Homo sapiens: one gene and its partners. The protein of the gene in region 1 purifies or fractionates together with the protein of each later gene. This does not show direct contact. Each region holds a gene or a part of one and is shown in the gene's direction. Other genes may lie near its edges.

Evidence for each region.
Region 2: the proteins of ITGB4 (region 1) and NT5DC3 fractionate together in Homo sapiens (co-fractionation; one large-scale study listed by BioGRID). This does not show direct contact.
Region 3: the proteins of ITGB4 (region 1) and ITGA3 purify together in Homo sapiens (affinity purification with western blotting, with the first as the bait; one study listed by BioGRID). This does not show direct contact.
Region 4: the proteins of ITGB4 (region 1) and S1PR2 purify together in Homo sapiens (co-immunoprecipitation; one study listed by IntAct). This does not show direct contact.
Region 5: the proteins of ITGB4 (region 1) and DNASE2B purify together in Homo sapiens (co-immunoprecipitation; one large-scale study listed by IntAct). This does not show direct contact.
Region 6: the proteins of ITGB4 (region 1) and CSTF3 fractionate together in Homo sapiens (co-fractionation; one large-scale study listed by BioGRID). This does not show direct contact.

The regions. Positions count from the first base shown.
Region 1 is NC_000017.11:75,741,959-75,745,458, forward strand, and holds part of ITGB4 (integrin beta-4 isoform 1 precursor), read left to right. Parts: intron 1-382; coding exon 383-531; intron 532-623; coding exon 624-803; intron 804-1,754; coding exon 1,755-1,903; intron 1,904-3,500. UniProt on the Homo sapiens protein: Integrin alpha-6/beta-4 is a receptor for laminin. Plays a critical structural role in the hemidesmosome of epithelial cells. Is required for the regulation of keratinocyte polarity and motility.
Region 2 is NC_000012.12:103,831,235-103,834,734, reverse strand, and holds part of NT5DC3 (5'-nucleotidase domain-containing protein 3), read left to right. Parts: intron 1-3,500.
Region 3 is NC_000017.11:50,054,791-50,058,909, forward strand, and holds the start of ITGA3 (integrin alpha-3 preproprotein), read left to right. Parts: upstream 1-1,319; 5' UTR 1,320-1,649; coding exon 1,650-1,855; intron 1,856-4,119.
Region 4 is NC_000019.10:10,221,332-10,224,831, reverse strand, and holds the end of S1PR2 (sphingosine 1-phosphate receptor 2), read left to right. Parts: coding exon 1-988; 3' UTR 989-3,399; downstream 3,400-3,500. UniProt on the Homo sapiens protein: Receptor for the lysosphingolipid sphingosine 1-phosphate (S1P). S1P is a bioactive lysophospholipid that elicits diverse physiological effects on most types of cells and tissues.
Region 5 is NC_000001.11:84,397,126-84,401,283, forward strand, and holds the start of DNASE2B (deoxyribonuclease-2-beta isoform 1 precursor), read left to right. Parts: upstream 1-1,358; 5' UTR 1,359-1,439; coding exon 1,440-1,564; intron 1,565-4,158. UniProt on the Homo sapiens protein: Hydrolyzes DNA under acidic conditions. Does not require divalent cations for activity. Participates in the degradation of nuclear DNA during lens cell differentiation.
Region 6 is NC_000011.10:33,154,981-33,158,480, reverse strand, and holds part of CSTF3 (cleavage stimulation factor subunit 3), read left to right. Parts: intron 1-3,500. UniProt on the Homo sapiens protein: One of the multiple factors required for polyadenylation and 3'-end cleavage of mammalian pre-mRNAs.

The DNA.
Region 1 (3,500 bases):
AAGCTGAGGCTCAAAAGGGTTAAGTGACTTGCCCAAGGTTACCCAGCTATCGAGAACTAGAACCAGGGCTAGGGCCGCGGCAGCCTGGCCTGAGCACACACACCCTTAGCATCTTTGCTGTCCAGCCCTTGATGAGGTGGGCAGAGAAGCCCATTTCACAGAGGAGGACGCTGAGGACAGGGAGGCGCCATGGCTGGGCTGAGGCTGCAGGGTAAAGGGTATGGGGCTGGCATAGGCCTGGAGCACTGCCTGCCTCTGAAGACCCTGCACTTCTTGCTGTCTTACATCCTGGCCCCTGAAGGGGAGAAGACAGGCAGGAGGGACAGGGCAGCAGGTGCCAGCCTGACCCCTCCGCTGCCTGAACCTTCCACCCTCGACCCAGGCAAGACCACACCATTGTGGACACAGTGCTGATGGCGCCCCGCTCGGCCAAGCCGGCCCTGCTGAAGCTTACAGAGAAGCAGGTGGAACAGAGGGCCTTCCACGACCTCAAGGTGGCCCCCGGCTACTACACCCTCACTGCAGACCAGGGTAGGAGGGCGGGTCCGCTGTGCCACTGCCTCGCACCTCCCGCCTGTGTGGCCCTGTGACCCACCTCTGACCACCTCCGAACCCCCACCCAGACGCCCGGGGCATGGTGGAGTTCCAGGAGGGCGTGGAGCTGGTGGACGTACGGGTGCCCCTCTTTATCCGGCCTGAGGATGACGACGAGAAGCAGCTGCTGGTGGAGGCCATCGACGTGCCCGCAGGCACTGCCACCCTCGGCCGCCGCCTGGTAAACATCACCATCATCAAGGAGCAAGGTGGGTCTGGGTGGGGAGAGTGGGGAAGGCAGACGGGGGCTCGGGGGCACTGGTTCCTCCTGCTTAAGTGGAATTGCGACCTGGCCACGTGGCCTGGGCTAGTCACTTAACCTCTGCAAGCCTTGGTTTCTCCATCTGTAAAATGGGTAAGGGCTCTTTTACGGAATGCGTGGCTGTTCACCTCGCCACAGTGCCTGCCTGGTGGTGAGCGCTCAGTAAATGGAAGCTTCTGTTGCATCCTCATAAGGGCCAGCCCCTTGCTCCTCTCTATCTAGAAAAAGGGTTGGCCAAGGCATCACACCGTGGACATCTGACCCCTCCTCCCACCTGTGCCGGAAGCCACAGGCCTCAGGCCTGTTCCTGCTCTCCTCCAGCCCTGGGGCTGAAGGCTCCATCTCTGGTCCTGCCCGTGACTGGCCTCCCTCCTCTGCCTGGCCCTTCCAGGATGTCTGCTGGACACTTTGTTCCAGAACCACTTTTTTTTTTCTTGGGACAGAGTCTTGCTCTGCCACCCAGGCTGGAGTGCAATGGCACCATCTTGGCTCACTGCAACCGCTGCCTCCCAGGTTGAAGTGATTCTCCTGCCTCAGCCTCCCGAGTAGCTGGGATTACAGGCACTCGCCACCACGCCCAGCTAATTTTTCTATCTTTAGTAGAGATGGGGTTTCGCCATGTTGGCCAGGCTGGTCTCGAACTCCTGACCTCAGGTGATCCACCTGCCTCAGCCTCCCAAAGTGCTGGGATTACAGGCACAAGCCACTGCGCCCGGCCCCTCATCTTTTTCTGGAAGGATTTTCCGTTTCGCTCCTGTGCCCTTCCCAGAGGGCAATGCATAGAGGGAACCAAGCGGACTCCTGGATTCTGGGCTGGGCTGGGCAGGGTCACAGGAGAGCAGGAGGTGGGAAGGGACTGGGCCCAGCACACTCTGACAAATGCCCGGGCTCCTTGCAGCCAGAGACGTGGTGTCCTTTGAGCAGCCTGAGTTCTCGGTCAGCCGCGGGGACCAGGTGGCCCGCATCCCTGTCATCCGGCGTGTCCTGGACGGCGGGAAGTCCCAGGTCTCCTACCGCACACAGGATGGCACCGCGCAGGGCAACCGGGTGAGGCTGCGCCACAGGGTCGAGGGTGCAGCCCGGGGGGCTGCGTGGGCACCGCATTGGGTTCCCAAGACAAAGCAGCACATGGCAGCTGCTTGAGTCCCTGGATACTGGCCGTGCCCCTGGCTGGCCTCCCAAGGACACGTCCACCTGCTCCTGCCACCCTGTGGCAGGGGAGTCTCACCTGCCCAGGGTGCCAGTGACACGCTGGATGAGGCTCCATTGCTGCCAGGGACTCAGGCCAAGAGGGCTCGCTCTTTTTTTTTTTTTTTTTTTTTTGAGACAGAGTTTCGCTCTTGTTGCCCAGGCTGGAGTGCAATGGCACAATCTCAGCTCACCGCAACCTCCACCTCTCGGGTTCAAGCGATTCTGCTGCCTCAGCCTCCCTAGTAGCTGGGATTACAGGCATGTGCCACCACGCATGTCTAATTTTGTGTTTTTAGTAGAGACGGGGTTTCTCCATGTTGGTCAGGCTGGTCTGGAACTCCCGACCTCAGGTGATCCGCCCGCCTTGGCCTCCCAAAGTGCTGGGATTACAGGCGTGAGCCACCGCGCCCGGCCCAAGAGGGCTCTTTCTTCCTTCATGGGCCAGGGACCTGCCCAGACCATTCCTGTCCCCTCCTACAACTCAGGATCCACAGGGTAGCCAAACCTCTTGGAGATAAACTCCCCCTATATGCCCCAGTCCAGGGGGCTTTGGGTTTCTTGAGCTGGGATCGAAGACCCCATGTCCCCAGGCCAGACTCCCCAAGGGCTGTCACAATTTGCCAAGCAGCAGGAGCAACCCTTCAAGGCAGGGAGTGCCATGGCTGGACCAGCATCACCTTCACTGCTGAGCCCCAGTGCTGGGGTACAGCCAAATCAGGTGGCACACAGGCTGGACTGGGTTTACAGGCTTCATAGTTTTGTTTCTTTTGTTTTGTGTGGGGATTTTTTGCTTCTTAATTTTTGGGGGAGACAGGGTCTTGCTATGTTGCCCAAGCTGGTCTTGAACTCCTGACCTCAAGTGATCCACCCACCTCGGCCTCCCAAAGTGCTGGGATTACAGGAGTGAGCTACCACGCCCGGCCTAGTTTTTGTATTTTTAGAAGAGATGGGGTTTTGCCATGTTGGCCAGGCTGGTCTTAAACTCCTGATCTCAAGTGATCCGCCCACCTCGGCTTCCCAAAGTGCAGGGATTACAGGTGTAAGCCAGTGCACCTGGCCTTTCTAGTTTTTAAATGTTGGCAACAAATCCATAATTAAAAACAAAGGCGGGGCATGGTGGCTCACACCTGTAATCCCAGCACTTTGGGAGGCTAAGGTGGGAGAATCACTTAAACCCAGGAGTTCAAGACCAGCCTAGGCAACGTGGTGAGACCATGTCTATACATATAATTTAAACATTAGCTGGGCATGGTAGTGCATACTTGTGGACCCAGCTACTTGGAAGGCTGAGGCAGGAAGATCACTTGAGGCCAGGAGGTTGAGGCTACAGTGAGCCATGTTCATGCCACTGTACTTCAGCCTAGGCAACAGAGTAAGACCCTGTCTAAAAAAATAATAATAATTAATTTTTTAAAAATCAAACAAAAAAACAAAGAAACAAAACCTGGCTCAG
Region 2 (3,500 bases), on another chromosome or scaffold:
CCCATCCTTCTTGTCATTTTAATTAAAAAGTTTTTTTAAAAACTTTATTTTTTAGATCAGCTTTAGATTTACAGAAAAATGACATAGTTTTTGTAAGCCCTACACCCATTTCTCTTATTAATCTCTCACATTCCTATATTTGTTCCAATTAATGAACCAATACTGATACATTATTCATTGTTTACTCAGTTTTCCTTCGTATTTACCTACCCTCCTTTTTTTCTTCCAGCCTGCCATCCAGGATAGCACACTACATTTAGTTGTCGTGTCTGTTCGGCTTCTTTAGGCTGTAACAGTTTCTCAGACTTTTTCCTGTTTTTGATGACCTACAGTTTTGAGGAGTACTGGTTACATACTTTGCAGAATGTCCCTCAATTGGAATGTTTTCCTTTTTCCTTTTTTAACTTGGGATTTTTGGATGTGTGAATGTTTATGCATCCTGTATCAAACTCAGCTCAAGAAAAGCTTCTTTATATTTTTAGGAAAAGAAATAACTGGTTTAAACCTGTAGCAAAAACATTAGCTGCTGCAGTTTTCCCCTGGAGCAGTGGTTCTCAGTGGGAGCTGGAGGGGCAGTTTTGTTCCCCAAGGGATGTTTGGCAATGCCTGGAGACCTTTTTGTCACAGCCAGGGGAGAGGGGTGCTGCTGGCCTCTAGAGGCCAGGGTTGCTGCTAAACATCCTACAGTGCACAGGGCAATATCCCACAACAAAGAATTATCTGGCCTCAACTGTTGGTAGTGCCAAGGTTGAGAATCCTCGTTCTAAAATGAATTCTAAGAAATCTTCGTGTGATCATAATTGAAAGGGCTGGATATGCCTATGTGTGGTCTCTTCTTTTCTGTTGTGCTTTAATGTTGCGTGTGTCTTCTTTGAACTCAAGCTCTGGCCTTCCAGGTGTGCTCATCAGATACTTGGCCTGTCCTGTTAGGTACAGAATGGAAGCCTTCCTACTCCTCCAAGACGGGTTGCTCCAACCTTATATTTTGTTAGTCGCACGGATTTTTTTTTTTTTTCATTAGAATTAATCTTGGAGCCTGGTTTATTTAGAATGTTTCACTACTTGGCTGGGGTTATAGGCTGTATTAAATTGTGGAAAGAAGTATGGGGATTAGTTAGAAGCTTTTATAGGGTGTTGAAAGATTTATTCAAAGTTCTGGGTGGAGACCATTTACTAATCAGTCAAAAATTATGTGCTGTATTTAGTGAGGACTGTGTCTACATGATGATGTAAGCTTAGCGTGTATAAGCATAAGACACAAGGATAATAATAATTCTATATAATATGTAATATTAAATACAGTGAATAGTAATAGTAAGCATAAGTTCCTCAAGCAACTGCATTGGGTTAAAGATACTCTTGAGATAATTTTAAAATTAGACCAATATTTCTCAGACTGTTTCACAATCTTTTGAGAGATGTGGTTAAAGAGATGTAGAAAATACATGTTAAAGAAGCTTCTTTGTAGCTGGGCTTTTCAGAGCTAGCTTCGGAGCTAGTGAGTCAGAGCCTTTAAAATGAATGAATCTCTAAAATGAATGACGGGGGTAGTAGGTTTAGTGCTTCCCAAGTAAATTTGACTGTGGAGGCCCCTTTTTGAGGTGATAAGTCTATTTTGAGGCTTGACAGAATATACTTGGGAAGTTATAATAATATGCCTAATAAGAACATATGTTGATAATACTGAAAGATGCTTACAACCAGAAATGTGCTTTTTCTACGCAGCAGGGATATAGAGTAATGGAGTCATAGGACCCACTGAGAATCTGGAGAAAGCTGTGTGTTTTTTCTTTATAAAAAGACACATTTGCAGTATTACACATAATACTTGAGCACACACAAATGATTTTGTATATAACTTCAGGGGATTCCAGGGGAATCTTAGTGTCTTCTGGTGACCCAGTGCTCATTTAGTGCTTCTGTTACGCTTTAGGAAAGTTTGAAGGATTGAGCTGTTATGCTCAATGATCCTTATGGAGGCAGAACTCAGCATGGGGACTGTTTTTTAGATTTAAATTTGCTGCTGGGTCAAGAAGCCTGCCTGGAATAATGATATTTTTTGGCCTGACTTTTGCTGCTGAGTGTTATGATTTTCTGTAATTGCCGTGGAGGTGGCTCGCTGATCTACCAGTTGAAAGCTAGAGTTCATTTTCCCCTTTCATTAGGGTGTAAATTCTGGGTAGGGTAAAGAGGAAGTGAAAGGAGAAAAAATACAAAAAGGAGATTAAATAATTTTTTTGCCAGCTTTTGAAGGTAAGACAAATTAAAAAAAAGAATTCAGTGGTCCTCAAACTGATAGGCACATCGGAATCACCTGGGAAGCTTGTTTAAAAATGGAAATTCTGAGGCCCTAACCCTGGAGATTCTGATTCCTAAAATGTGGAGGTAAGACCCGGGAATCTATATTTTTACAGGCCGGGTTTGGAAACCAATCTTTTATTGAACTCTTAAAGACATGTGGAAACAGATGTCCTCTAACCGTCAAGAGTTCTTTTGGACTTTGGCTTTCAGCAGTCTGGCAGACTAGATCGTCTAAAAACCTTTTTGTATAGAATACCCACACGCTGAAAAAAAATATAGAGGACTTTCTCTTGAAGTCATAACTGAACTCTGAGAAACTGGAGAAATCTCAAGGACTAATAATGAAGAGGAAGCCGAGGCCAGGCGTGGTGGCTCAGGCCTGTAATCCCAGAGCTTTGGGAAGCCGAGGTGGGCAGATCACTTGGGGCCAGGAGTTTGAGACCAGCCTGGGCAACATGGTGAAACCCTGTCTCTACTAAAAATACAAAAATTAGCTGGACGAGGTGGCATGAGCCTGTAATCCCAGCCACTTGGGAGGCTGAGGCGTGAGAATTGGCTTGAACCCGGGAAGTGAAGGTTGCAGTGAGCCGAGATCACACCGCTGTACTCCAGCCTGAGTGACAGATTGGGATTCTGTCTCAAAAAAAAAAAAAAAAAAAAAAAGAGGATGCTGAAACCCGAATGATGACCAGCCTTGAAGGTGTGACTGTTCTGGGAACACTTGTTGGCCTTTATTGGTCGTGCCTGCTGGGAGGGAAGACTAGGCATTGGGCGCACACACACACACTGTTGGAGACTCTCCTATAAAACCTGGTGGCCACAGAGTGCTTCCTTCCGTGCAGGGAGACAATAGAGAAACTTCTCTCTTTTGGTCTTTGCTCTAGATATTTTTTCTGTGTGTGGGGGGGCAGGTTTTGGAAGTGTCCCGTGACCTTGTAATCACAAGCTCGTCCTCACATGGATTTGGGTTTGAATTTATTCTTCTTGTATTGTCTGGCAATCTGTATGAGTCCATTCTTTTACATTGCTTTGAAGAAATACCGGAGACTGGGTAATTTATAAAGAAAGTGGTTTAATTGACTCACAGTTCCACATGGCTGGGGAGGCCTTGGGAAACTTAGAATTGTGGCAGAAGGCACCTCTTCACAGGGCATCAGGAGAGAGAATGAGTGCCAGCAGGGGAAATGCCAGATGCCTAT
Region 3 (4,119 bases), about 26 Mb from region 1:
AAAGTACATAGTAACCTCTTTTTTTTTTTTGAGACGACGTCTCACTCTGTCACCCAGGCTGGAGTGCAGTGGCGCGATCTCGGCTCACTGCAACCTGCGCCTCCCGGGTTCAAGCGATTCTCCTGCCCCAGCCTCCCAAATAGCTGGAACTACAGGCGCCCGCCACCACGACCGGCTAATTTTTGTATTTTTTTAGTAGAGACAGGGTTTCCCCACATTGGCCAGGCTGGTCTCGAACTCCTGACTTCGTGATCCGCCCTCCCCGGGTTCCCAAAGTGCTGGGATTACAGGCGTGAACCACTGCGCCTGGCCAGAGTAACCTCTTGAAGTTCCCTTTCGATTTGATTCCTTGGTGGAGGAGACCTTTAGTCTCCGCCCACTTACTGCCACCTGGCCCTACCCACCAAACACCTGATGGGTGCTGACGTCCGAGCCCAGTCTCCAAACACTCTGTTCGAGCTTGGGTGGGAAGAGGGAGCCTCTGGGATTCTGCTGGGCTGGGCCCTGAAGGCAGGAGTGGACGAGAAATGGATACGGTCTAGGCTCAGCTTCCCGGCTACGCAGTGCGTTCTGTGAAGGACGGACTCATTTCTACATTGACAGTCTTAGCCTTTGATACCAGAAGTCGCAGCACTTAGGGGGAAAAATGCTTTTTGGTAATTATAATTAGCGACATTTGGTTGTTACCACTGCTAAATATGTCTGTCTTTGCTGAGGAGCCAATCTCAGCTCGGATCAGGGTGAGTGGATAGGAGAAATAAATCTCGGCAAAGACAGCGAGGGGCCTGAGTGCGAGGAAGAACTCCCAGAGACCGCCAGCCACCTCTTGGGGACTCACAGCGCTGCGGAGGCGAGTCCAGCATTCTAGCCAGCCGCGCACGGACGTCGGTTCCCAGATGCGCCAATGCCAGGTCTCTCCAGCCCGGCTGGCCTTTTCAGCAGCAGCAGCAGCAGCCGCAGGAAAGCGGCCAGACAAATCCCACCCCCGGCCCCGCCCGTCACATCCATCTTGCTCCCCAGGCGACGCTTTCTCGGAGAAGCGAGGGGCGGGGAGGGGAAATCTAAGCCTTTGGGGGTTGCCGACAGGTGTTTGGGGGAGAAGGCGGAGCTGGGGTAGGGAGGATGAGGAGGGAGGGGCGGTGCTGCCCCTTTAAGAGGAGGCGGCCGAGCCGGGATCTTTTTCTCTTTCCCCGGAAGGAAAGCGCAGCCCGGGCTGGGCTCGCAAGGTGGGGAGGTGCGGGACTGGGCGTGGGGAGGCGGGGCGCGCGCCGGGGGACCCCTCCCTCCTGTCCTCCTTGCGGTCGACCGGTGCGCTTGCCAGATCCGCCGCGAAGCCGGGATCGAAGGCGACAGCGCGGCCAAGGGGGCGCGGCCGGGACAAGCTGGGGGCCGGTTGCCCGGGGCAGGGACGGCGGCGACCCGGCCGCTGGGGAGGCAGGAAGATAGACCCACGGATCTTAGGAAGGGATCCGAGAGCGCAGCTGTGAAACTGGCTGGGGCTGGGGGCACGAAACCGATCAGCGCTACGGAGCGCAGCGGCCGGCGGGTTCCAGTGTCCTCCGGCGGCGCGGGGAGCAGGTGAACAGGTCCTCACGCCCAGCTCCGCGCCCTCACGCGCTCTCGCCGGGACCCCGCTTCCGCTGGCAGCCATGGGCCCCGGCCCCAGCCGCGCGCCCCGCGCCCCACGCCTGATGCTCTGTGCGCTCGCCTTGATGGTGGCGGCCGGCGGCTGCGTCGTCTCCGCCTTCAACCTGGATACCCGATTCCTGGTAGTGAAGGAGGCCGGGAACCCGGGCAGCCTCTTCGGCTACTCGGTCGCCCTCCATCGGCAGACAGAGCGGCAGCAGCGCTACCTGTAAGTGAAGCTGGAGGGTGTGGGGTGGGAGCGAGAGAGTGTGCGAGCGCGGGATGCGGGTCCGGAGCTGAGTCGGAGCCCAGGGCAGCTGGCCCTTGGGAGCCAGGATTAAGGGGCGGCCCTCTGGCTGCTGGGGGTTGGCGGGAAGTGGAGGATTGGGTGTGGGGTCGGGCAGTAATCATTGGCAAGTGCTGACGGGGCCAGAACCTGTCTGGACGCCACCCCTCCGCCCTTTAGATCTCTCATGAGAGCGGAAGTGGGGTCCCGGTGGCTGAGTCCTCTCCCATTCTGTGAACCGAGTACCCAGCACTAGCCTGTTCTCTCCAGGGCTGGGAGCTGGGGTAAACTGCAAGATAAACACCCAGCGGACTCCCCCCTTCCCGTACGCTTGGGGGAAAAATGAGCATATACATTTAAGCACCTCGCTGGTAGTCTGCGGCCACGCCAGCCACACCCTCTGCAGAGCCAGACTGGATGGCCTTCTCAACCGCTGGCTTGGCGGATGGAGGGTGAGGCGATGGGTGAGTCTGGGCGTTTGGAGCTGTCCATACGCTCCCTCTGACGCCTTGAGGATAGGGGCGGTGAAAGAGAGAGGAGGACTTGTCCCAACTCTGGCTGGGTCTCCTCCTGCCCACCCGCAAGCAGTGGCACTCTCCCCGCAGACATCTTCCCTGCATTCCACAGATTCGTGTTGGATCTTCAACCCTGAGTGTGTTTGTTTTGGTTTGAAGAGGGAAACAGTGTTTTTCTCTTTCTTCTGTTCTCCTTCCCCAACAGCTGCAAGGAGGAGGGGAAGAGCTATGCACAGTGGAGGAAGGAGGAGGAGGTTGCACCCAGCCTCCTGGGTCCCCCTCACTCCACCAGACGCCCTCATGCCCAGGAGCATGTCCAGGCTTCAGAGGTCTCTCTGCCGTGGCCTCAGAGCGCGCGGAGGTTGGCGGTTGGGGGAGGTGAAGCTGTCCAAAGAGGGACGGTGTTTAGGACAGGTTAAGCAGGTACCATCCACCACTTTGGGCTGGGCGATCTGCCAGGCATCTGCCCCCACCTAGCCTCTGCCCCCACCTGGCCTCTGACCCCACTGAACAAGAAGACGTGGTCACATCCAGGGTACACTGGAAAATCTCCCTGCTCTGGCTGGGGCCTGCAGAGCTTGAGGAAGTTTAGAATGTCCAAAGTCCAAACTCTGCCCCCGCCTTGGTTCTGCCCTCCTGACCCAGCCTACCTACCTGGACTTAACCTCAACTCCATCTTGCTCTTGCAGAGGCTAGGGCTACCACACCCTTCCCAGCCTGGCCCCAGCAGCTGCCACCTGGCCTTAGCCAACCCTCTATCTTTTGGAGATCCTGAGCCACCATGAGCACAAGTTTCTACATCAGCTCTTTCTGCCCTAACTGAGAAAAAGATTTTCAGACTTTCAATGCCAAATCTGCATGATATAAGATAACATAGGTAAAGAGATCAGACTGGAAAGAAAGAGTCAATAATGATTCCGCAACCCTTTTGCCTGGTGACCTTGAGCAAGATATTTCCCCTCCCTGGGCCAGGTTTCCCCCAAAACGGGTTGGACCTGGATCTAGTGCTCTTTCCCACTGCTGCTGGCCTGTGAGAAGCAACTTGATATGGTAGAGGGAGAAGAGGCTTGGAGGTCCCATGGCCAGTGTCCTGTCTCAGATCTGTTACCAATACCTGAACCTGAATTTCCGCACATGTTGGAGGGAGGGGAACAGCATGCCTTCTGCTGGGATGTTAGTGGGGCTGTAACGAGATAAAGTGCGTAAAATCCTCTGCACATGTGCCTTTCTCCAAGGAGCACCTGAAGGCTCTTGCGCTGAGGCCAGAACCTGGATGCATCCTCATTACCCATGGGCCCCGCCCAGGGTGGCTGAGCAAAGGGGTTCTACTTTTCTGTCTGGGAAGCTGGAGCTGGCATTCAGCCTGCCAAGAGCCCAGAAGGTTCTAAAGCTAATGAACCTCTGAGGGGCAGTTCTCTCCCTTGAGTATCCTCAGTCTTTCCTAAGGGTGGTTCTGTGTCTTGGCCCTTCTCTTCATCTCACTAAATTCGACCCCTCGGCCATTTGGGAGAGCCAGCTGGGCTTAGCTGCAGCCAGCTGTGTAGCCAGATGCAAACAGCTGCCTGAGTGCACAACTCAGAGGAACTAACTAGTAAGACGAGCTGCAGCCTCATATTCTGTTAGCCTGAAAGTCTCTTTGGAAAAGTGGGATGGTTCGTGGTCTTGGACAGGCTCTTAAACTGGGGTTCGTAG
Region 4 (3,500 bases), on another chromosome or scaffold:
GGAAACGCAGGAGACGACCTCCCGCCAGGTGGCCTCGGCCTTCATCGTCATCCTCTGTTGCGCCATTGTGGTGGAAAACCTTCTGGTGCTCATTGCGGTGGCCCGAAACAGCAAGTTCCACTCGGCAATGTACCTGTTTCTGGGCAACCTGGCCGCCTCCGATCTACTGGCAGGCGTGGCCTTCGTAGCCAATACCTTGCTCTCTGGCTCTGTCACGCTGAGGCTGACGCCTGTGCAGTGGTTTGCCCGGGAGGGCTCTGCCTTCATCACGCTCTCGGCCTCTGTCTTCAGCCTCCTGGCCATCGCCATTGAGCGCCACGTGGCCATTGCCAAGGTCAAGCTGTATGGCAGCGACAAGAGCTGCCGCATGCTTCTGCTCATCGGGGCCTCGTGGCTCATCTCGCTGGTCCTCGGTGGCCTGCCCATCCTTGGCTGGAACTGCCTGGGCCACCTCGAGGCCTGCTCCACTGTCCTGCCTCTCTACGCCAAGCATTATGTGCTGTGCGTGGTGACCATCTTCTCCATCATCCTGTTGGCCATCGTGGCCCTGTACGTGCGCATCTACTGCGTGGTCCGCTCAAGCCACGCTGACATGGCCGCCCCGCAGACGCTAGCCCTGCTCAAGACGGTCACCATCGTGCTAGGCGTCTTTATCGTCTGCTGGCTGCCCGCCTTCAGCATCCTCCTTCTGGACTATGCCTGTCCCGTCCACTCCTGCCCGATCCTCTACAAAGCCCACTACTTTTTCGCCGTCTCCACCCTGAATTCCCTGCTCAACCCCGTCATCTACACGTGGCGCAGCCGGGACCTGCGGCGGGAGGTGCTTCGGCCGCTGCAGTGCTGGAGGCCGGGGGTGGGGGTGCAAGGACGGAGGCGGGGCGGGACCCCGGGCCACCACCTCCTGCCACTCCGCAGCTCCAGCTCCCTGGAGAGGGGCATGCACATGCCCACGTCACCCACGTTTCTGGAGGGCAACACGGTGGTCTGAGGGTGGGGGTGGACCAACAACCAGGCCAGGGCAGAGGGGTTCATGGAGAGGCCACTGGGTGACCCCAGATAGAGACTTGGGGCTACTGAGCCAGATGCCCCCGCCCCACAGACCTGGGTGATGTTGCAAATATTTCACACCTGGAAAGGCCAGATAAGGCACTGACTAGTCACATAGCAGTGTTGCAGTGCGGTCCTGAGGGCCAGTCCAGTGGCTAGTGTGACCCCTTTAGAACTGGATCCTGGGGAGGCCAGGGCAGGGGACCTGTGAAGAGCCAGGGTGAGGGCAGGCAGCATTTAAGGGGAGCTCAGGGCAGGAGCACTTTACCACCTGGTACAAAGGATTTTTTTTTTTTTTTGAGACGGAATCTTGCACTGCTGCCCAGGCTGGAGTGCAGTGGCGTGATCTCGGCTCACCGCAAGCTCCGCCTCCTGGGTTCATGTCGTTCTCCTGCCTCAGCCTCCCAAGTAGCTGGGACTATAGGCGCCTGCCACCACACCTGGCTAATTTTTTGTACCTTTAGTAGAGATGGGGTTTCACCGTGTTAGCCAGGATGGTCTTGATCTCCTGACCTCGTGATCCGCCCGCCTCGGCCTCCCAAAGTGCTGGGATTACAGGCGTGAGCCACCGTGCCCGGCTTTTTTTTTTTTTTTTTTTTTTTTTTTTTTTTTTTTTGAGATGAAGTCTCGCTCTGTTGCCCAGGCTGGAGAGTGCAGTGGTACGGTCTCAGCTCACTGCAACCTCCACCTCCCAGGTTCAAGCGATTCTCCAGCCTGAGCCTCCTGAGTAGCTGGGATTACAGGTGCCTACCACCACGCCCAGGTAATTTTTTTTTTTTTTGTATTTTTAGTAGAGACGGGGTTTCACCATGTTGGCCAGGCTGGTCTCGAACTCCTGACCTCATGATCCGCCCGTGTTGGCCTCCCAAAGTGTGGGATTACAGGCGTAAGCCACCTCACCTGGCGGTACAAAGAATTTCTGCATTTTCTTCCCTGGCCCCTAGTCCTGCACCGATTTCTCCTTTTCGAATGTATTCCTCCTGCCACCTTCTCTGGGCAACTTCGTGCGACTACAGAACCACTGTCCTGAGGAGCTAGAGGCCTCCTCTCTGACCATCCAGAGCCCAAATCCACAGCTTCCCCAAATTTCATCAGCTGCCACTTGACGACTTCTCCCCGTCTCTCTGAGGCCCGGAAACCACGGCTGGAGGTGGGGAGGGGATGGCGGCTGAGGTCCATTCCTCATTCTCAGACCTCATTGCTCAGTTGCACTATTTGGGGCACAGAATAATCACCAAAAGTGAGAAAAACGAGTTTGGGTGGCTGGGGAGGACTTTGGGACTCTTGATGCAAGGCGCAACTTGAGAAAATTCTGGGTGTGATATTTGCACAGACACCCTCCTTTCAAAAACAGCCACCCCCCAAGCTATTCTCAGCTCCACACCTGCAGCCCCAGCTAAGGTACCAGGTCTCCTGAGCAAGGCAGAGAGAAGCCTTGAGCCTTCTCTGTGTCTTCTTTCAAGAACCCCGCTGTGTCTTCTTTCAAGATTTTTTTTTTGAGACAGTTTCAAGATTTTTGTTTTGTTTTTGAGATGGAGTCTCACTGTGTCACCCAGGCTGAGGTGGCAGTGGTTCAATCTCCGTTCACTGCCACCTCCACCTCCCGGGTTCAAGCGATTCTCCTGCTTCAGCCTCTCGAGTAGCTGGGACTACAGGCACCTGCCACCATGTCTGGCTAATTTTTGTATTTTTAGTAGAGACAGGGTTTCACTACGTTGGCCAGGCTGGTCTCAAACTCCTGACCTCAAGTGATCCGCCCGCCTCGGCCTCCCCAATTGCTGGGATTACAGGCGTGAGCCACTGTGCCCGGCCTTCTTCTTTCAAGTTATATAGAATGGAGCATGGGGGTGGCAGTGGCTAGGGACATTTCCTGGGGACACTCTCCCCTAACCCCCCAGAAGGACTTCACAAAAACCTGTGGATAATGGAAGGGATGTTACGGTACAAACGTATATTTATGTGTGTGTGTGTGTATGTGTGTGCGCGCGCGCGTGTGCACATAGGCGTGATGTCTGTGACCCTCCTCTCCTCGTCACATTTCCCCCAGAATGAATGCTGTCCTGTCTGCTCATGTTTGTGTTGAAGCTGCCAAAGTCGGGGAGCTCTGGTCCTGCCCAGACCCCTTTGGAATTGCTGGCCCATCCTCCCACTGGAGAGCTGGGGTGCAGCTCACCTTGGGGAAGGAAACCTCATGCCTCAGAGTAATTTCTTGTGAATGCAAAGCCTGGGGGAGCGGGTCTTTGGGGGGCAAGGAGCCAGTCAGGGGCTTGTTTCCCCTCATAGAGCTCCCCAGACGTGCCTCCGCAATGCCTGAAACCCAGACCTAGGCTAATAAACGGTTCAATTTCTGTTTCCTGTGGTTGGTGTGTCTTTTCGGGGAGCAATTTCCCCCAGGAGCGCCCCATGGCTGGGCTGGATGGAACAGGAGGGGGGCTGCTGCCTGAGTAACTCAT
Region 5 (4,158 bases), on another chromosome or scaffold:
GAGGTGGATGGATTCCCAGGCCGAGGTGGGTACACTCCAGCCTGGGCAACAAGAGCAAAACTTCATCTCAAAATAATAATAATAATAATACCAATGGAGGAATGGGTAAGAAAAATATTTCTTCATTTAACCTGCAGAAAGCTGTGAATCTACCAAATACAGCATAGTCTTGGCCTCAGGGCAGTGAGTTTCAAACTTTAGGGTACACCAGCATCACCAATAAGCTTATTAAAAATATAGATTCTTGAGCCCAACTGGAAGAATTCTGATGTAGCAGGTTTGGAATAAGTCCTAGAATTCTGCCTTTTTTGCAGGCACCACAGGTAATTGGGCAGGTGGTACAGAGTCCTCCTCCCAAAACTCTGTCTTAGGATAGAGACACAAGCCTTCCCCTTTTCTATGAATCCTGAGAATTGTGAACAGTTCTAGTGCAACCACAGAGGTAATCTGATTTACAAGGGTTCAGTTTGGTCTGGATCCTCTGATCTGGAACTATTATAGTTATCATTGTGATTATCAGAGAGACAGATTAGGGGCAGCATTATTTCCAGGCATGATGTAAACTGCTATTTATTATGATGGCAGCTTTAATAATTGATGCAAAAGTATGCATTAAAGAAATTATTTTCATATGTCTATCTACTCCTTCCCTGATTCACAAAGAAATTGGTCTCACCTTTTTATAGTTGTTATGGTAGTGGGCCATTTTATTTTGGTTTTCTACTTCAGATTCAGCTTCGAGAATGAGAAAGCATAGTTTGGGCAAAATAGATGTTTGTAACATTTTTTATTAACCTGAAGAGTGGGTGATCAATATGTTTACCTATTGCATAGCAGCCTGAAGCACCACATTGAGTGGCTAAAACCAGGAAGATGGAGAGAATATGTAAACATCTTTGGTAAAATACAGTTAAATTTACTGTTACTTTGAAGCAACCCTTTGAAGTATCCCTTAGCAACTGGTTCCTTAAGACAGAGATTATTAAGTGACAGATCCTAATTATTACTAAGACATAAGGTTTTATCATTTCTGTTTAATGTACGAACCACCTGCATTTGCTCTCATTCATTGAGTCAAACAGGAGAAGACATGAAATATATTTAACATCTACTTATTAAAATGAAGTCCCCCTGCCCAATGAATTTCATACAACAATGTTCACTCCAAAGAGTGAACTATCTTTCCCTATTTTTCTGCAGAACTTTTTGATGACTTTGCAAACCAGTCAACAATTCAGCACAAAGGCATCCAGAGTCACGCTGGCATGTTGTGACAGAATCGCACAATTACATGGGATCCATCCCACTCTGAAAATGCCCCGAACAGCGAACAGCACAGGTAAATCAAATCAAACGTCAGAGCCAGCACAGCCTGAGAGCGCCTTGAAACTCAGACTCCACAATCTATGGGGAAAGTGTCCTGCTGTGGCATGAAATAAATGAAACAGAAAATGATGGCAAGACTGCTAAGAACATCCTTTGCTTTGCTCTTCCTTGGCCTCTTTGGGGTGCTGGGGGCAGCAACAATTTCATGCAGAAATGAAGAAGGGAAAGCTGTGGACTGGTAGGTAAATGAAATGGAAGGACTGCTGCATGCAAACAGCCTCGGTACAGAGTTGGCCTGGCTCACTGCGAAGTTCCTAAGGGGAATGTCCATTCTCTTTCCTCCCTTTACAAATAAAGGAAGTTAAAGTGTGCAAATCGGCCAAACTCCCAGGCAGGGGTAGGCTTCTGAGTGACGGAGTTTCCCCCTGAAAAAGAGCTGAGCAGCCCCTCTTGGGCCTGATTCACTGTTCTCAGCGGGGCAAGGCTGGTAGCCACAGAAGTGGGATTGAGCTGACAGCTTCTGTGAGCTGGCAATTTCTTTTAATTACATCATGGCTTTTCCTAACAGAACACTTCCAACATCCTTTGAAAGACTGACAGAGTAAAGAAGGCAGATTATTTTTTTCTGAAAATGGAGCATGTGCTGCTCCTTATGAGAAAGAGAAGGGGGACCTGGTCACACACAGCACTGTTTGCCTAACATCGGTTTGTTTGGAAGCAGAGGCAGCTGTTGCCATGATTGGTACGTAGGCCACTGGCCTGTTGTACAGTGTCAAAGACATTAAATGCTGTGTTGCATTATAGTCATGGGTTCTCCTAAAGCTTTAACTACTTTTTCACCCTTTAATTGGGATATTTAGGTTTGCCATAATGGTTGGTGTCAAGCTTTTTGTGTAAACTTCAGGCTACAGAACACAGATATACTCAAGGCAGTAGTCAGTCTTTCCTCAGTTACTGAGCTCAACAGAGGTCTGTGTGGAGTTTTGAAAATATAAATATGAACGAAACATGGTTCCTACCCTCAAGGACCTCACAGTTATGTGGTAAGGGCATAGGTGGAACACTGGGGAACAGAGAGCCCAGAAAACTTCTCTAAGGATGTAATTTTTGAGCTAAGTTTTAAGAACAATTAAGAAGTAGCTGGAAAAAGAAGGGATGTGCAAGAGCATCTCAGGCCAATGAAGGAGCAATGAGGAGGTAGAGAGGCAAGAAGCAACATGGAAATTTGGGAGTTGCAAAGTAGTTTGGTATTGCTGGAACTTCAGGAGAATACAGGAAGATGACCGGAGGTGAGGTTAGAGAGGTGGGGACAGCCAAGGGGTCTGTGTGCTGAGCTACAAGGTTTGAACTTGACATTGAAAGGGAGCTATTGGAGGACTTCACGCAGGGGTGTGAATGGTCAGATTTGCACTTTAGGAAACCCATTGGCAGTACTATGAGGGCTGGATGGATGGGGAGCAGCCTAGAATCACTGAGACCAGGAGCACTTTTGCAGCATTACAGGTGAGAAGAGGTGTAGACCTGAGTTAAAGAAGCGGTCATGGAAATAGAAAGAAGGACATGCTGAGAAGACTTGGTGATGGATGGGCTGCAGCCAGTAGGAGAAAGGGAGATGTTAAGAAATAATTTTAGGTTGGCCAGGCGTGGTGGCTCACGCCTGTAAGCCCAGCACTTTAGGAGGCCTAGGCAGACAGATCACCTGAGGTCAGGAGTTCAAGACCAGCCTGACCAACATGGAGAAACCCCATCTTTACTAAAAATACAAAATTAGCCAGGCATGGTGACGCATGCCTGTAATCCCAGCTACATGGGAGGCTGAGGCAGGAGAATTGCTTGAACCCAGGAGGCGGAGGTTGTGGTGAACCAAGATCGTGCCATTGCACTCCAGCCTGAATAACAAGAATGAGACTCCGTCTCAAAAAAAAACAAAAAACAAAACAAGAAAGAAAAAGAAAGAAATAATTTTAGGCTTCTGCTTCTGAGACTGCATGAATATGTTCCCTAATAGTGTGGGATGAGCAGATTTGGAGCAAAATATTATAAATTTGGTTTCAAAAATACGGAGTTGGGGGTTAATGGGACATCTTTGAGTTTAGGTTTCTCTGGACCTCAGCAGAAAGGTCTGGGCTAGAAACAGACTGAGGACTCTTGAGTACATAATTAGAGACAGTCACCCAGGAAAAATGTTTAAAAGTACTAGCTCTCAACTGGTGTGCCACGGCACACTGATAGTTCACAAACCCTTCACTGGTGGGCCACCAAATTGTGATTGATATGGAAAATCATTTTTGCCACAAGTGAATGGACATATTACTTAGCAATGTCTGTTAGAGAGAATATAAGCAACTTGTTGCCAAGCTGCTAACATTTATTGAGAAAGGTAAGGAAAGAGACCATCAAGTCAGCACCAAAGAATAATTTCATGTTTCCTGCCACATGTGAGGACCTGACCCTGTAAGAAAGCATAAGCAGGGCAGGAAAGAGTTCACTTAAATTAAGTATAAGACCGAAGGGGACCAAGTGAAGAGTGTGCAGCTTTTACGGGTTTGTGACACTGTTGTATGGTAATAGTGTATATATTATAATGTTTGGTGCACTGTGAGTGTTTAGGGGTTAATGGTGGGGTTCATGCTATTAGAAAGTATTTGGCTAGATCAGTGGTTCTCAACCGAGGGTAATTTTGCCCTCAGAGGATTTTTGATAATGTCTGGAGATAATTTTGATTGTCACAACTTGGCAGTGCTACTGGCATCTAATAGGTAGAGGGCAGGGATCTTACAATGCACAGGACAGCTCCCACAACAAAGAATGATCGGCTGAAAATGTGAATAG
Region 6 (3,500 bases), on another chromosome or scaffold:
GGTTTTGTTTTGTTTTTAAAACCCACAATTCTGTTGGTCTGTGTCTGTTTACTGGCTCATACTTTCTGCAAAAAAGACTTTTTTTCTTCCTAAAGATTAAGTATCGCTATGGATTCATGGATTTCTCTTAGTGTGTTAGTATCAGTGATAGCCATTTTTCTTTTGCACACTCAACTTGTCCAAACCTTTTTGGTGGTTCTTATATCTTTTCCTTAAGTCTGAAAGGCAATTTAGACATCTGATTATCAACAAGGAAGTCATCTTCATATAGCCTTTTCTTTAACTTTTTAATAATACATTTCAAACATGTAAGAAAAACAGTATAATATATGAAGTACCTGTCATAGAGCTTCAATTTATGGCTAATCTTGTTTCCTCCATGACTTCATTTGCTTCTCTCACCCCCATTACTTCGAAGCAAATCCTAGATACTGTATTCAGCTTCAACTAAAATAACCATTAAATAACACCTTAAGGATGGAAAATATGAATGAGCTGTACCTTGCTTGATATTTAAGACAATATTGAAAATCTGGAGGAAAAGAGAGTATCCAAAATAACCTGAAATCATGGATGAGAAAAATAAACTCAATGAGACTAAAGAATAATAAGAAAAAAATTAAAACCATTGAATCATGGATTTGCTTTGGAAAAATGCCAAGGGATGGGGTGGACAAAGAGTCCTACAAGATGCAGGTGTAGATTTAGCCTTTTAGTAGCATTGAAGTTCAAGTTTGTAGAATAAACCTGATACTATCTTAAATTTATTACTAAAATATATGGATAGTCATTTTTCTCTTGGTGCTAAGATTTGTGATTTGTGCCCCCTAACAGAGGGAAATTATTGCAGACAAGCAAAATCACTGCTAAAGGTTTATTGCTGTGATTTTTTTTTCAACTCTAGTAGGGAAGTTCAATTTTGCATGTAGAGAGCTATTGGAATTACCTTATAGTGTTCAAGGATCTCTTCTGAAGCTCCTTGCTTATTGTTTTTGCCAGTTTAATGGTGAAAAAACTATTTGCATATAGGTTTACCCCCCTAACAAACATATGATTTCTGTGTGGAATTATGGCTGTATTATTTATTTCATGGTTTTGTTTTTTTGTGTTTGTTTTTTGTTTTTTTGAGATGGAGTCTTGCTCTGTTGCCCAGGCTGGAGTGCAGTGGCACGGTCTCGGCTCACTGCAACCTCCGCCTCCCAGGTTCAAGCAATTCTCCTGCCTCAGCCTCTTGAGTAGCTGGGATTACAAGCACACGCCACAATGCCCGGCTAATTTTTTTGTATTTTTAGTAGAAATGGTGTTTCACCATGTTGACCAGGCTGGTCTTGAACTCCTGACCTCAAGTGATCTGCCTGCCTCAGCCTCCCAAAGTGCTGGGATTACAGGCGTGAGCCACTGCGCCCAGCCTGTGGTGTTTGTTTTTTTTAATGCCTGATTCAACTTTTGATCTCATTCTTAGGTCTATTTAACCTTGTGCACTACTCTTAAGGCATTTAATATGCTGTTATTTAGACATTTTCCATTGGGTTTTGAACTTCTTTAGTTGAAGAGATGATGTTATTCATCTTTATGTCTTAAAGACCTAAGAAATAATATTTTGATGCTTAAAGGTATTCAGTAAATGAATGGATTAAGTTTGCATCTTTTAAAAAAAATTATTTATTTACTATTTAGGTAGAGACGAGGTCTCACTGTGTTTCCCAGGCTGGTCTTGAACTCCTGGACTTAAGTGATCCTCCTGCCTCAGCCTTCCAAACTGTTGGATTACAGGTGTGAGTCCAGCCATATTTCACCTTTTAAATAATGTATAACTTATCCTAGAATTTGGAAGGCCTAAAATACAAGCCAAATGATCCTCAGCTTGGAAAAGCTACATGATTCTAAGAAGCGCAAATTAATTGCTGGTAGTTCTTAACAAAGGAGCATTTAGGCTCATAAATACGTGTTTTTAGTGAAAAATAATTTTGGGAAGATTTAGAAAATAATGAAGAGTATGTGTCCTATTATATACTTATTATTAATAAGGAAAGAAAAAGTTGAAACACCCACAGCATTGAAACCTGAAACCTGGTTTATTTCGTTAGGTAAACATTAGTACTTAAGCTGTTTAGAAGTAACAGTATCGCCAATTTTAGTCAAGGTGCATATATGTGTAGGGGTTAGAAGAGGCAGAGAAAGAGCCAACTATGTGTGTTGGACAATGTGTTTTTTTGGATTTATTTTTTCCAAAATCTTTCTGTAACAGCCCTTCCTAGTTTTCTGCCTCCTATTTTTAGTGATGCTTGTTTGGTGTAACAGTTTTGGGCAGGCAAATTGATTTGATCTTTATTGTTGATATTTCTTAGGAAACTGGAGCATTATCAAATATTCTGTTTGGGGACAGTTGTTCCTAAGAGAAGTTGCTCTGTGCTTAAAGAATGAGAATTGGGTTTTTCTTAGAGATACAGCAGAAAGGTACTGTGTTAGGTGATACTGCATTCCTTCAACATTATTTCAGGGAATGTAGGCATTTACATCCCAGATAGACCTTCAGAAGGGCAAAATCTGTATTTGGGTGTTTTTACCTATTGGACAATTACCCATACCAATTCATGATTTTAAGCTTTTTTTTTTAAATCTTCGATTTGGTGACGGTGATTTTAAGCTTTTCTACCATGTCTCTGAATCTTTCTCTTTAGATAGGACCTACCTGTGAATTTGAGTCTTTTTGTTTTGTTTTGTTGGACAGTTGGTAATGGTGTGAGAATTGGGCTAAAAAAGGGATTTGAGTTGGCAGTTGTTTAAACTATCTTTAGATTAATGGACAACTTAGGATACATAGTAAATATTGAATAAAATCAGAAGGGCAAAGCTTCTGTGTGTCCTAATTAATGTTTTTCTAATGTTTGACTTAGTTTATTTAGTGTATTAAATCTGGATTATTCATATTTGAAAGAAGTCTCATCTTTTAAGTTCCAAACGGTTAAGATTTTAATTTATATTTTGTAGCTATTTGTTTCCTAGGGGATGAATATGCAAGTTTACTAAGCAGATAATGGTAAATATAATTATTTGAACTAATATGTTAAGCCAAGATCTTTTTTTTTTTTTTAATTTTTTTATTTTTATTTTTTCGAGACAGAGTCTTGCACTTTCGCCCAGGCTGGAGCACAGTGGCGCAATCACGGCTCGCTGCAAGCTCCGCTTCCTGGGTTCACGCTATTCTCCTACCTCAGCCTCCCTAGTAGCGGGGACTATAGGTGCCCGCCACCACGCCCTCACGCCCAGCTAATTTTTTATATTTTTAATAGAGATGGGGTTTCACTGTGTTAGCCAGGATGGTCTTGATCTCCTGACCTCATGATCCGCCCGCCTTGGCCTTCCAAAGCGCTGGGATTACAGGTGTGAGCCACCATGCCCGGCCCAAGATCTTTTTTTTTTTAAGTTTTTGAGTTGTTTGTATGTTTAGATTTTTAATCTATGGATGATTTGGAGGGATTAGTTTTGTATTGTAGGAT